Homo sapiens: one gene and its partners. The protein of the gene in region 3 purifies or fractionates together with the protein of the main gene of each other region. This does not show direct contact. Each region holds a gene or a part of one and is shown on either strand. Other genes may lie near its edges.

Region 1 (4,027 bases), on a different chromosome or scaffold from region 3:
AGCACTCTACTCCCCCAGCACATTATTCATTCCAAAAGTGATTAATTTGTCACAGCACATAATGGTTAGTGGTTTATCTCTTCTGATGAACACTTAGTATGCTGAGCATATACTGTGTCTTAACTTCTTTGTCTTCCCAGCACCCAACGAAGTGTCTCGCCATAGCCAGCACCCAGTAAGTATCTGCTGAGTTGTTAAATAATGCAACATTTGCAGTTGTAACTTTACACATCTTGGTTAGCAATTCAACTTCAGGTTTACATACCACTCAAAAGAATTTTCACATAACAGAAGATGTTATAAATAAAGACCAAGGGTTCAATATTCAGCAGCAGGGTCTTTAATTATTCTGAAATCTCTTTGGTCAGTATTTTTAAGCATCGTTCATCAGAAAGACTCCTTTCCCAACTAACATTTGTATATTTTACAGGATCAGCAGTAAAGACAAACCTCAGAGAGATAATCCCAAGCAAAACTATGTCACTGAGTGTGACTGGATGACTATTGGTACATCATTTCAGTAAATTTCCAATACAATGGCCCAAGTACATCAGGTAGATTTTAGATAATGAGACATGCACCACTGACTACCTAAAATACATGCACATTAGTGAGGCATCGATTCCAATTAGTAATTGAAATCAAAAGTATATTAACAACCTGATATTGGTTCAAGCGTAATATCCTTTACTTTCAAGTAAGGATAACACTTATTCTTGTCAAAGACTGTACTCTGATTAATACAACCTCTATCCCACCTTACAAGAAGGCTGTATCTTGTTAACAGTGGGATGCTGATAAGCCCGCCTTAATCCTTAACACTTTGCCTTCCCAACCTGCTAAGCCATCTCTCTCCAGTATTCCCCTATAAGAGACGTTCCGCTCCAGTTACCAGACATAAAAGTCGTCTTGGTATATCCTCCAACAACCAAATTCACATTATTATTTTCTCAGCTCCTGGTTTATTTCCTAACAAATTTTAACTTCTTTCAGAGACCAAGTCAAATCTTGCCTCTTTCAAAGAGTTCCCTAACTCAGCCTACACATCCTATCTTTTCTGATTTTCTACCACATTTATAGTCCTCAAACAGCACTGGTTACCTGCTACTTAACTTGGTTTTATAATTATTTTATACATCTCCTAGCTAGACTACTGCTCTCAAAGGGAAAAAAAAGACAGGTCTTCTATGTCATTTTTCACTCCATAATCCTCCTCCCACACCTATCATGATACTGGGCAGAGGGAGGCACATGTATTAAGTACTTGATGGACTGAACTCAATGCTTTCTATACATAGATACACCACTTGAGCATAGTGTGCTATATAACAAATATCCATTGCATGCCTACTCTGTGGCAAGCACATTTTTCCTATGTGTTAGACATAGGGCAAGGAGGAAAACACAGATGACTCCTGTCCTAAAAGCTATTACAGTGGAGGGAGGAAGACACTTTGAATTCCGAGTAATCTAATAAGTGTTACAAAGCAAGGTTATTACTGGTTCCAAGAGGTAACATACTTTACAGATTCTCAGTTATGAAACAGAATCATAGAATTTTAGACCTAAATGAGAACCTTGAACTTATTTTCCTCTATCCTCTTACACAAAACATTAGATTTCAGTACAGCCTATCTTTTCACTGGTTCTACAAATTGCCTTAATCAACAGAAAGAAAAGACTGGCTTCTTCCCTGTCTCCAATATTCCTCGCTCCCAAGTATGGTAACCACAACCCCTATACATCTACCCATGATAGAGTCCAGAGCACTGAGAAGACAGCACAGGGCTGAGGATGAGCTACACCTTTACATGCTGGGTTCTCCCATCATCAACACTTTCCGCCCACACAGTGAACAGAATCCGTATTTTCTGCCCAGAAAATAGCAGCCTGTACTGCCTTTAGGAAAAACAAACAAAACATGCTTCCATACTTCCTTGGATCTACTAATGACAAAAGCACAACACGGTTCTGGGAAATATAGCAAGATAACTAAGTCTATGAGGAAGTAAGAAATGAGGATGCCTATCAGCACCTTGGTCTCAAAATCTGTAACAACAATGTACTAAAACGCCAAGGAAACACATGCACATACATGTGAAGTTAGAAACTCTAGGCAACAGGTTGGCTGCCCCGGATCTATACTGACAGGTCGCCCTCCCAAGGTCGTGGGTGTGTCTGATGCCGCACGCAGGCACTGATTCACAACTCTCTCCATAACAACCAGCTCCTACTCAGAGGCTGGCCAGGGCAGGGGAGATGAGGGCCCCAGCAGTCCCAAACTTTCCAAACCCCCACCCCGGGGTCCCGGGTTTCGCCTCCTCAGTCCCAGGCAACGTCGTCTCAGACAGGATACGAGACTGCTAGGGAACCTGGGCTGCCCCTGATTCGAACTCCTCTCTTTGGGAGGCTGGTAGAGCCACCCCGAATCCCCGAAACGTCTACTTCCCACTACACCTTCGTGGACTGCGAACGGGACGGCTACCGCTCTCCCAGAGCACCCGGGCCCAAGAAATGACCCTCGTCAGGCCCCGTCCCAGCTCCTCCCCCGCCCCCGGAAAAAGCGGCGGAGGGGCGGGGGGCGGTGCGCGCGGATACGGCGGGGGCGCGCGTCCCCGCGCCGCAGGTGCGGCCAGGCCCCACCTCCCCTGCAAGGACCCGGCTACTCACCCCAGCGATGCTCCTCTGAGACCAAGCTGCGACACAGACGCCTCTTCCGCCCGCTCCGCACCCCTCTCTGCGCCACCGCCCCCTTGGCCGCTTCCGTGGCCGCCGTCCTCGCCGCCGCCCCGGCTGCTGCGGCGCGCGTCCGCTTTCACGCACTCCGCCGTGGCCGCGCACGCGCCACTGCGCGCTGGCGTCACTTAGCAACCGATCGACAGCGGGCTGCTGGGTCCGGCGATGCAGGCCCAGAAAGTCGCCTAAGGCAGCTTCCGCGGCTTTTTCGCATCGGCCCGACCCTCTGCCCCTCCAGAACAGGGGGCCCCAGGGTGTGGCTGCCCTGCCGGCACCTGGCTCCGGGTAAGTCGAGTCACCACACGTCACTGTATGGCGTCACCGGCGCACGTCACTACGGATGAGAAGGTCCTGGGCGCCTGTGGAGTGACCTCGTCCAGACCGCCGCAGACCCGATCGGCAAGTTCTTGGAGGTGCAGGAAGGTTCTCCAAGGAGTAGGACCAGAAAGGGATGAGAGCGCGAGCGCGGTTAATGTCGAGGCTGCTAAGTGATGCTCGTTAATTTCGCAGCAGGGTGTGACTGGCCCAGCCTTGACTCTCAGTTTCCTCTCTCAGTAAATGGGCATAATAATACCGGTCCAGCCTACGCTGGAGAATTGTGAGGTGAAAATGAAATAAGGTATGCAAAGGTACTTTGTAAGTATAAAGCCCATTTGACTTGGTGGCTCAAGCCTGTAATCCCAGCACTTTGGGAGGCCGAGGTGGGCGGATCGCTTGAGCTCAGGAGTTCGACACCAGCCTGGGTAACATAGTGAAACCCCGTCTCTACAAAAAAGACAAAAACTAAATGGGCATGTTGGCGCGCGCCTGTAGTCACAAATGCTCGGGGGGCTGAGGTGGGAGGATCGCTTGAACCTGGGGAGTTCAAGATTGCAGTGAACCGTGATCGCGCCGCTGCACTCCAGCCTCTGCAGTGAGAGCAAGACACTGTCTCAAAAAAATGTATTTATCTATCTACATAGATAAGAGTCCTAGAAATCCGGGTGCAGGTCTGACTGTAGCTGGTGTAGGAAAGTCAGTTATCCCCGACGCTGGAGCAAGCTAGGGGACCGCCCTTGCAGTTGTTGGAGGAGACAAATTGGGAAGGACTTAATTCCGGGCAAAGGAAGCTTCATGAGTAAAAGTAGAAAGTGAAAATGGTCAGGAAAAGCAAGGCTTGGGGCAGGGAGACCCATTTTTAGGCCATTGCAGTACTCCAGACAAGTGATAAGAACATTAAACAAGGCATTGGCAGTGGGAATAGAGGAGGGGATAGATGTTAGCGCCATTAAGGTGGTAGAATTCACAGCAC
Region 2 (3,500 bases), on a different chromosome or scaffold from region 3:
CAAGGAAAATTCTCATATAACTCTATTAGAAAGGGGGATCCACCATGGTGTTTAAACTCACTTTAGGTCGCACTGTTGTAGAAATGGTTCAGATTTTATTAATCCTTTGCTATAATTACTTCCAATAAGAACTTCTGGAGAACTCCACTTGATTTACCAAATTGAGCTCAGCATATTAAAATGAATAGTTTTTGCCCAATGAATTTCTCCTCCCTTCCTTTCTATTCCATTGTTTATTTATTATCTGTAGTTAAAACATGTATGAGACCATTTGAGAGCATACTGTAGATACTAATTCCTGGATGCTGTGTGATGCAAAACAAACAAAAAAGCACTCATAGCATTTCAACTGTGGCAGCTATACAGACATTAGGAACTAGACAGAAAGGTAGGAGCTTGGTAGACTTATAAGGTTTTTGAGCAAGGGAGTCGTGTAATGGAGCAATACTGTTGAAAAAATATTTTTGCCAAGTTGTATAGAATTTTTTTGAGGAACATCTTTTTCAAAATATATTTTTAAAACATCCTTTGGCCTCCTCTGTGCCAAAAAGAATTCTAAGCACTTAAGATAGATATATGAATAGGAAATGGCTATGAGCTCCTAGTAAGGAGGCACGTTGATGATCTTTTATTATTGTGTCACCTATAACCATACTGCCACCACTATATTCATTTGCTGTTGTGTAGACAACACTAACATTATTTGCCCATTTTTCATTATTTGTATGTATCAGTGCTGTGCATTTTAGGTGATGGGAGTAACCAACATCATTTTATACCCCTACTATTTCAAAGAGAGAGAGATAAAAACAGATCATTTTGGTAAATTTGAGGTGTTGTAGGACCGCTTAACCCAGCCTGGAGAATTTGAGACCTTTTGGCCAATCTGATGTCTAAACCACCCAGGATGAGTACAATTCATTGCAGCAGAGTTGGGAAAGGGCCTTTCCCAAGTAGCAGAAACAAGATTTTCAAAGACTCATAGGTCAGGAAGACCTCGCAACGTGATGGACAGCAAGTAGTTTAGTAGAGCTGACTGAAGAAGAGGAAATTGGGGAAAGTGGGACAAGCAATAAGCCAGGTAAGGAGAGGTAAGCTAGTGCCAGTTTGTGATAAGTTTTCTATTTCCTGCTAAAGGTTTTGAATTTATCCTGAAGCCTATTAGGAGCTATTCAAAAATTTTTAAGTGTGAAGGTGATATGATCAGATTGCATTTAGAAAAATCTCTTTGACATCATGATGAATGATACAGCTGTAGAGAGATCAGTTGTAGGAACTTAAGAAATGATGAGGGCTGGAAATAAGGTAATTACAATAGACTTGAAAGGAAGTGAATAAATTCCAAAAGTATTAAGATGGGTTAGAAAAAACTAGATGCTGAATTGAATATGAAGCAGGATGATAATGTAATTTATTGAAGCATTCATTGAGATAGGGAAATAGGTTGATAATCAGGATTGGATAGGAGTAGGGGTGGGAAGGAATATGTCCTGCCCATGAGTCATCAGGTGGAACTATCCAGAAGCAAGTACTTATTCAGGTCCAGGTCCTATCAAGAAATGTGGCTTACCAGGAGTTTGAGGCTGCAAAGAGCTATGGTCACACCACTGCACTCCAGCCTGGGTGAGAGAGACCCTGTCTCTAAAAAAAAGAAAAGAAACATGGCTTAAATAAAGATTTGGAGACATCAGCATGTAGAGGGTGACTCAAGCCGTGAAAATGATTGAGATGAACCAGGAAAGATGCAGAATGAGAAGATAATTATTAATATTTGCTCTGAGTATACTGTTTTCTGTATCAATATCATCTGATAATCCCTCTCATTTGGCTTGTCATTTTTCCCTCCTTAATCATAGTTTCCTATTTAGACCATTTTAAAGGAAGCAGGATATCAATTACAAAAATCAAAAATAGTCCTTTTCAAAAACTGATAAATCTGAGAATAAATAATATAGTGCCATTTACAGCAGATTTTCTTTCTTTTTATTTTTCTTTTATTTTCTTTTCTTTTTTTCTAGAGACAGGGTCTCACTCTGTCACCCAGGTTGGGGTGCAGTGGTACAATCATAACTCACTGTAACCTCAAACTCCTGGACTCAAGCGATCCTCCTGCCTCAGCTTCCTGAGTAGCTTGGACTATATATAGGTGCACACTACCACATCAGCTAATTTTTAATTTTTTTGTCTCTACTATTTTGGCAAGGCTGGTCTTGAACTCCTGAGCTCAAATGATCCTCTTGCCTCGGCCTCCCAAAGTGCTGGGGTTACAGGTGTGAGCCACCGGGCCCGGCCAGATTTTCTTTTCTTATCAGTGGCTTCCTTCTAAAATACAATTTATCATCATAATAGACAATTTGGTTTCATTTTTAAAGAACATAATAATCTCTGTTTATTATTATTATGTATAATATTAATAGTGAAAAGAAAATCTATAGGTTTCATTCTTTGAAGCATTAAGTAATTTTTCCCCTGATCCTTGATAACATCATGTGTGAATAATCAACTTTGCAGATATTTGGGTAGGGTACAGAGAGAGGTATCAAGCATGTCTTGTCTGTTTTAGTTTTCTGTAATATACTTTCTCCCAATCATAACTTGCACATAGAATTGAATTATCATGGTGCATTAATAATGTACTTGGGGTTTTGCAGGTGTTCATCAGTAATGGGTCATTAAGTGATGTTGTGATTGTAGTTGCGGTCACAAATCATGAAGCTCCCTCCCCTGCCCATGGTATTAGCCTTTTTCTGGTGGAAAATGGAATGAAAGGATTTATCAAGGGACGAAAGCTACATAAAATGGGATTAAAAGCCCAGGTGAGTGATAATGTAAATCATATTCAGATACTAATTGAGTTTACTGTTAATCAGATAGGAGACTTACATAGAGGATTACATGTGGCACAATTTTATTTCCTATGCTGAATTCCTAAAATATGCTTTTCTGATGTGGTAATGAGATTTATTCTCATTTATACCACTCTATCTTTCTGATGGTCAGCAATAGAAATGAATCAAGGTATTTTGAATATCTGTTTTAGAAATGGCAAAATTAACTGCATGGTAACAAGCCATCTATTTGTAAAATGCATTAAAGAAAAATATGAAATAAAAATAAAGTGTGGCCAGGCACAGTGGCTCACACCTGTAATCCCAGCACTTTGGGAGGCTGAGGCCAGCGGATCACCTGAGGTCAGGAGTTCAAGACCAGCCTGGTCAATATGGTGAAACCCCATCTCTACTAATAATAAAAAATTAGCTGGGTGTGGTGGCAGGCACCTGTAGTCTCAGCTACTCGGGAGGCTGAGGCAGGAGAATCACTTGAACCCAGGAGGCAGAGGTTGCAGTGAGCCAAGATCACGCCACTGCACTCCAGCCTGGGCAACAGAATGAGACTCTGTCTCAAAAAAAATAAAACAAACAAACAAAAAAAACCCAGAAAATGTTCTTTCTATACATTACCAAAAATGCATGTTTTGCTTAATATGTATTAGAAATCCT
Region 3 (3,500 bases):
AGCCTCAACCTCCTGGGCGCAAGTGATCCTCTACCCTCAGCCTTCCAAGCAGTGGGACCACAGGCACGCACCACTATGCCAGGCTGTTTTTAATTTTTTGTAGAGATGTGCCCTTGCTATGGTTACCCAGGCTAGTTTCATATAATCTCCATATGTCACAAAATATTATTCTCTTTTTTGTTCTTCTCTCAACCATTTAAGAATTGTAAAAAATATTCTTAGTTTGCAAGCCATACAAAAACAGGTAATAGGCCAGATTTAGCCTGTGGGCTACAGTTGGCTGAACCCCGCTTTAAAGTATGTGGTTGCTAGAGGATTATCTTTAAGAATAAGAAGTCCTGAGGCCGGGCATGGTAGCTCACGCTTGTAATCCCAGCACTTTGGGAGGCCGAGGCGGGTGGATCACGAGGTCAGGAGATCAAGACCATTCTGGCTAAGGCAGTGAAACCCCATCTTTACTAAAAATACAAAAAAATTAGCCAGGCGTGGTGGCGGGCGCCTGTAGTCCCAGCTACTCAGGAAGCTGAGGCAGGAGAATGGTGTGAACCCGGGAGGCGGAGCTTACAGTGAGCCAAGACTGCGCCACTGCACTCCAGCCTGGGCAACAGAGCAAGACTCCGTCTCAAAAAAAAATAAATAAATAAAAAGAATAAGAAGTCTTTAATCTATATAATTCATTTTTTCTTAAATATCAAACGCCTATTTTTTATCAGAATGTTATCTTTGCCCTTTCCATAATATGAGATCCCAATATGAATTGGAAAAAAATTGGCTAATTACTAGATAGCATTCTTTTTTTATTTCAAAATGATCAAATTAACCAGTTTCAGTAGAGAAGAAAAAAAGTAACTTTCAAGGTTAAAAAAACCCCCAAATTCAGCCTATATGCAATACTGAAAAAGTCTATCAAGTTATATTACAATTTTTAAAAAGTTAACTCTGTCTTCAGAAGAAACTTGAGTAACACTGAAACTTACCATAACAGTTTCATTAGTTTCAGGTGCAGAATCAAGCAGGTCATCTAGTTCATCTCCAAGGACCATATCTCCATCATCTAGAAAAGCTTCTGGCATAGTGAAGGGCATCTTTCCTCCATTTGCCAGCACTGCAGATGGCAGAGCGCTCTCTTCCACTTGTAGTGGCAAAATAGAAGTTAAGGGCATAACAGGAACTGAGGCCAGCTCACTTCCAACTTCATGAGAAAAACTGGGTGCCGGTAAAGAGACAACAGGAACTGCTTCTTGCCTTGGAGTTAATAAATCTGTAACACAGATGGAAATGTACTCAGTCACTTTCATCGTACTTACATAATAATACCATTAATCCCCAATAATAGAGATACAAAGATGAAAATATGAAGGCAATTATAAAAATAATAAAATTGACAGTATAGTAAAGCAATTCCAAACAGATACAGTCACGTGTGAAAACTTATCCTTCTTTCACAAAATGCCTGTATCTCTCTTTGGGCACAGCTATCAGACAGTGGCAAGGCCACAGTGGGTGTCAGTGATTGCTTACTAACATCCAACACTTTTCAGTCACTCACTGGCACATCCAAAGGCACAAAGGGAGCATTGGAAATCATTTTCACTTTCATATTAATACATTAATATGAATATAACCACACAGCGATATTATTTGACAATACATCACATACAAAGACATCAGGTACAAAGCTGGCACTATTCAAATTGTTAAGATGATATGTGAAAACATACCTGGCTCAATATCTTCCACAGAATGGTTCAAAGCCTAGAAATTAAACCAAACAATGGGTTATAATATTTTCAGGACTCTAAGCCATAAAACAATCAGTAAAACTCACCCTAGGCCGGGCACAGTGGCTCACGCCTGTAATCCCAGCACCTGGGGAGGCCGAGACAGGCAGATCACGAGGTCAGGAGTTTGAGACCAGCCTGGCCAACATGGTGAAACCCTGTCTCTACTAAAAATACAAAAATTAGCCAGGCATGGTGGCAGGCATCTGTAATCCCAGCTACTCAGGAGGCTGAGGCAAGAGAACTGCTTGAACCCGGGAGGTGGAGGCTGCAGTGAGCTGAGATAGCGCCACTGCACTCCAGCCTAGGTGACAGAGCGAGACTCTGTCTTGGAAAAAAAAAAAAAAGAAAAAAAGAAAAAACTCACCCTAAGAGAACAATGCAGGTTTCCACAGAAATTCAACTCCCAATTAAGATCCAAGAAATGAATGGAACACGCAAACCTGTATACATGTGGTGTTAGGTGAGGTGCTGGTCTAGCAGTGCTGCCACTTATTTCTCGTGGACCAGCATTTCTCAAAGGCTATTCAGCAGAATAACAGGGATGAATTTGGCCACCAATCATTGCCCAACTCACAATAGCCATTAGCATCCTATTAGCCCCAAGAAAATTTTAATTTTAAAATTAAAAACAAAAACAAAAAAAAACCCTTTGTTAATTTTATCACAAATGACTCCCAAAACTAGTATTTGGCCCTGAACCACTCTTATTGCACTGAAACCTAACATCTATTAACATCCTATAAAATGCCCCACTGGAGCATTCAGGAAATGCTGGTTACAGCTAAAATATATTACTTGAGTTGTAGATGTTCTTTTGTAAAGTGACTAGAAGAGGCCAGAAGAGATGGCTCACGCCTGTGATCCCAGCATTTGGTGGGAGGCCAAGGCAGGAGGAACACTTGAGCTCAGGAGTTTGAGGCCAGCCTGGGCAACATGGTGAAACCCCATCGCTACAAAAAATACAAAAATTTAACAGGCCATGGTGGTGTGTGCCTGTGGTCCCAGCTACTCGGGAGGCTGAGGTGGGAGGATCACTTGAGCCCAGGAGGTGGAGGTTGCAGTGAGCCAAGATCAGGACACTGCACTCCAGCCTGGGCAACAGAACAAGACTCTGTCTCAAAAAAATAAATAAAGTGACAGGAGGGTATTGCCAATTACGTGTTTGAGGAATTAAAAAGGTTCCAAAAATAAACACACACCAAAAATACTAAAAGTAGAATTGCTCCCATCCTTCCCTTTAAAAAAAAATATAATTTTGACAGAAAAAATAACTTTACCTTGGTAGCCCCATCCCCAGGAACTGATTTTAATGAGAGCTGAAATAAAATAAAGACACTAATTTAAAAACAGAACTGACTCCAAGTTCTAAAACAAAATGAAAACACCTTATGCAGAGAACTCCAGCTTACCTCAGCTCTGACATACGCTTTTCTTATTTTAAATCCCAATTTCTGAGCTAGTTCTTGAGTTAGTTTTATTACATGCTCATCCTGAAAAAAATAAGTATGTATAATTAACAGGGTTATATTTACTAATGGTGAAGAAGAATAGACAAAACAGGGAAGTTTCCCATCAAGACACCTGCTTCATTAGCATTTATACCCAACTGAAGCAGGTTGATGGATGACTGGAAAATTTAACTCTTTAAATGCCATTTATTATGATGTAAATGGTTACGATGTAAACAAATAAACTATAAATTCCATACCTGAGGCA

What was found. The genes of interacting proteins can lie anywhere in the genome.
Region 1: the proteins of ZC3H7A (region 3) and BTBD9 purify together in Homo sapiens (affinity purification with mass spectrometry; one large-scale study listed by BioGRID and IntAct). This does not show direct contact.
Region 2: the proteins of ZC3H7A (region 3) and ACADL purify together in Homo sapiens (affinity purification with mass spectrometry; one large-scale study listed by BioGRID and IntAct). This does not show direct contact.

Annotation. Positions count from the first base shown.
Region 1 is NC_000006.12:38,637,130-38,641,156, forward strand, and holds the start of BTBD9 (BTB/POZ domain-containing protein 9), read right to left. Parts: upstream 2,801-4,027; 5' UTR 2,671-2,800; intron 1-2,670.
Region 2 is NC_000002.12:210,204,948-210,208,447, reverse strand, and holds part of ACADL (long-chain specific acyl-CoA dehydrogenase, mitochondrial precursor), read left to right. Parts: intron 1-2,651; coding exon 2,652-2,816; intron 2,817-3,500. UniProt on the Homo sapiens protein: Long-chain specific acyl-CoA dehydrogenase is one of the acyl-CoA dehydrogenases that catalyze the first step of mitochondrial fatty acid beta-oxidation, an aerobic process breaking down fatty acids into acetyl-CoA and allowing the production of energy from fats.
Region 3 is NC_000016.10:11,773,259-11,776,758, forward strand, and holds part of ZC3H7A (zinc finger CCCH domain-containing protein 7A), read right to left. Parts: coding exon 3,493-3,500; intron 3,275-3,492; coding exon 3,194-3,274; intron 3,101-3,193; coding exon 3,062-3,100; intron 2,696-3,061; exon of another isoform or gene 2,149-2,695; intron 1,756-2,148; coding exon 1,722-1,755; intron 1,262-1,721; coding exon 978-1,261; intron 1-977. UniProt on the Homo sapiens protein: May be a specific regulator of miRNA biogenesis. Binds to microRNAs MIR7-1, MIR16-2 and MIR29A hairpins recognizing the 3'-ATA(A/T)-5' motif in the apical loop.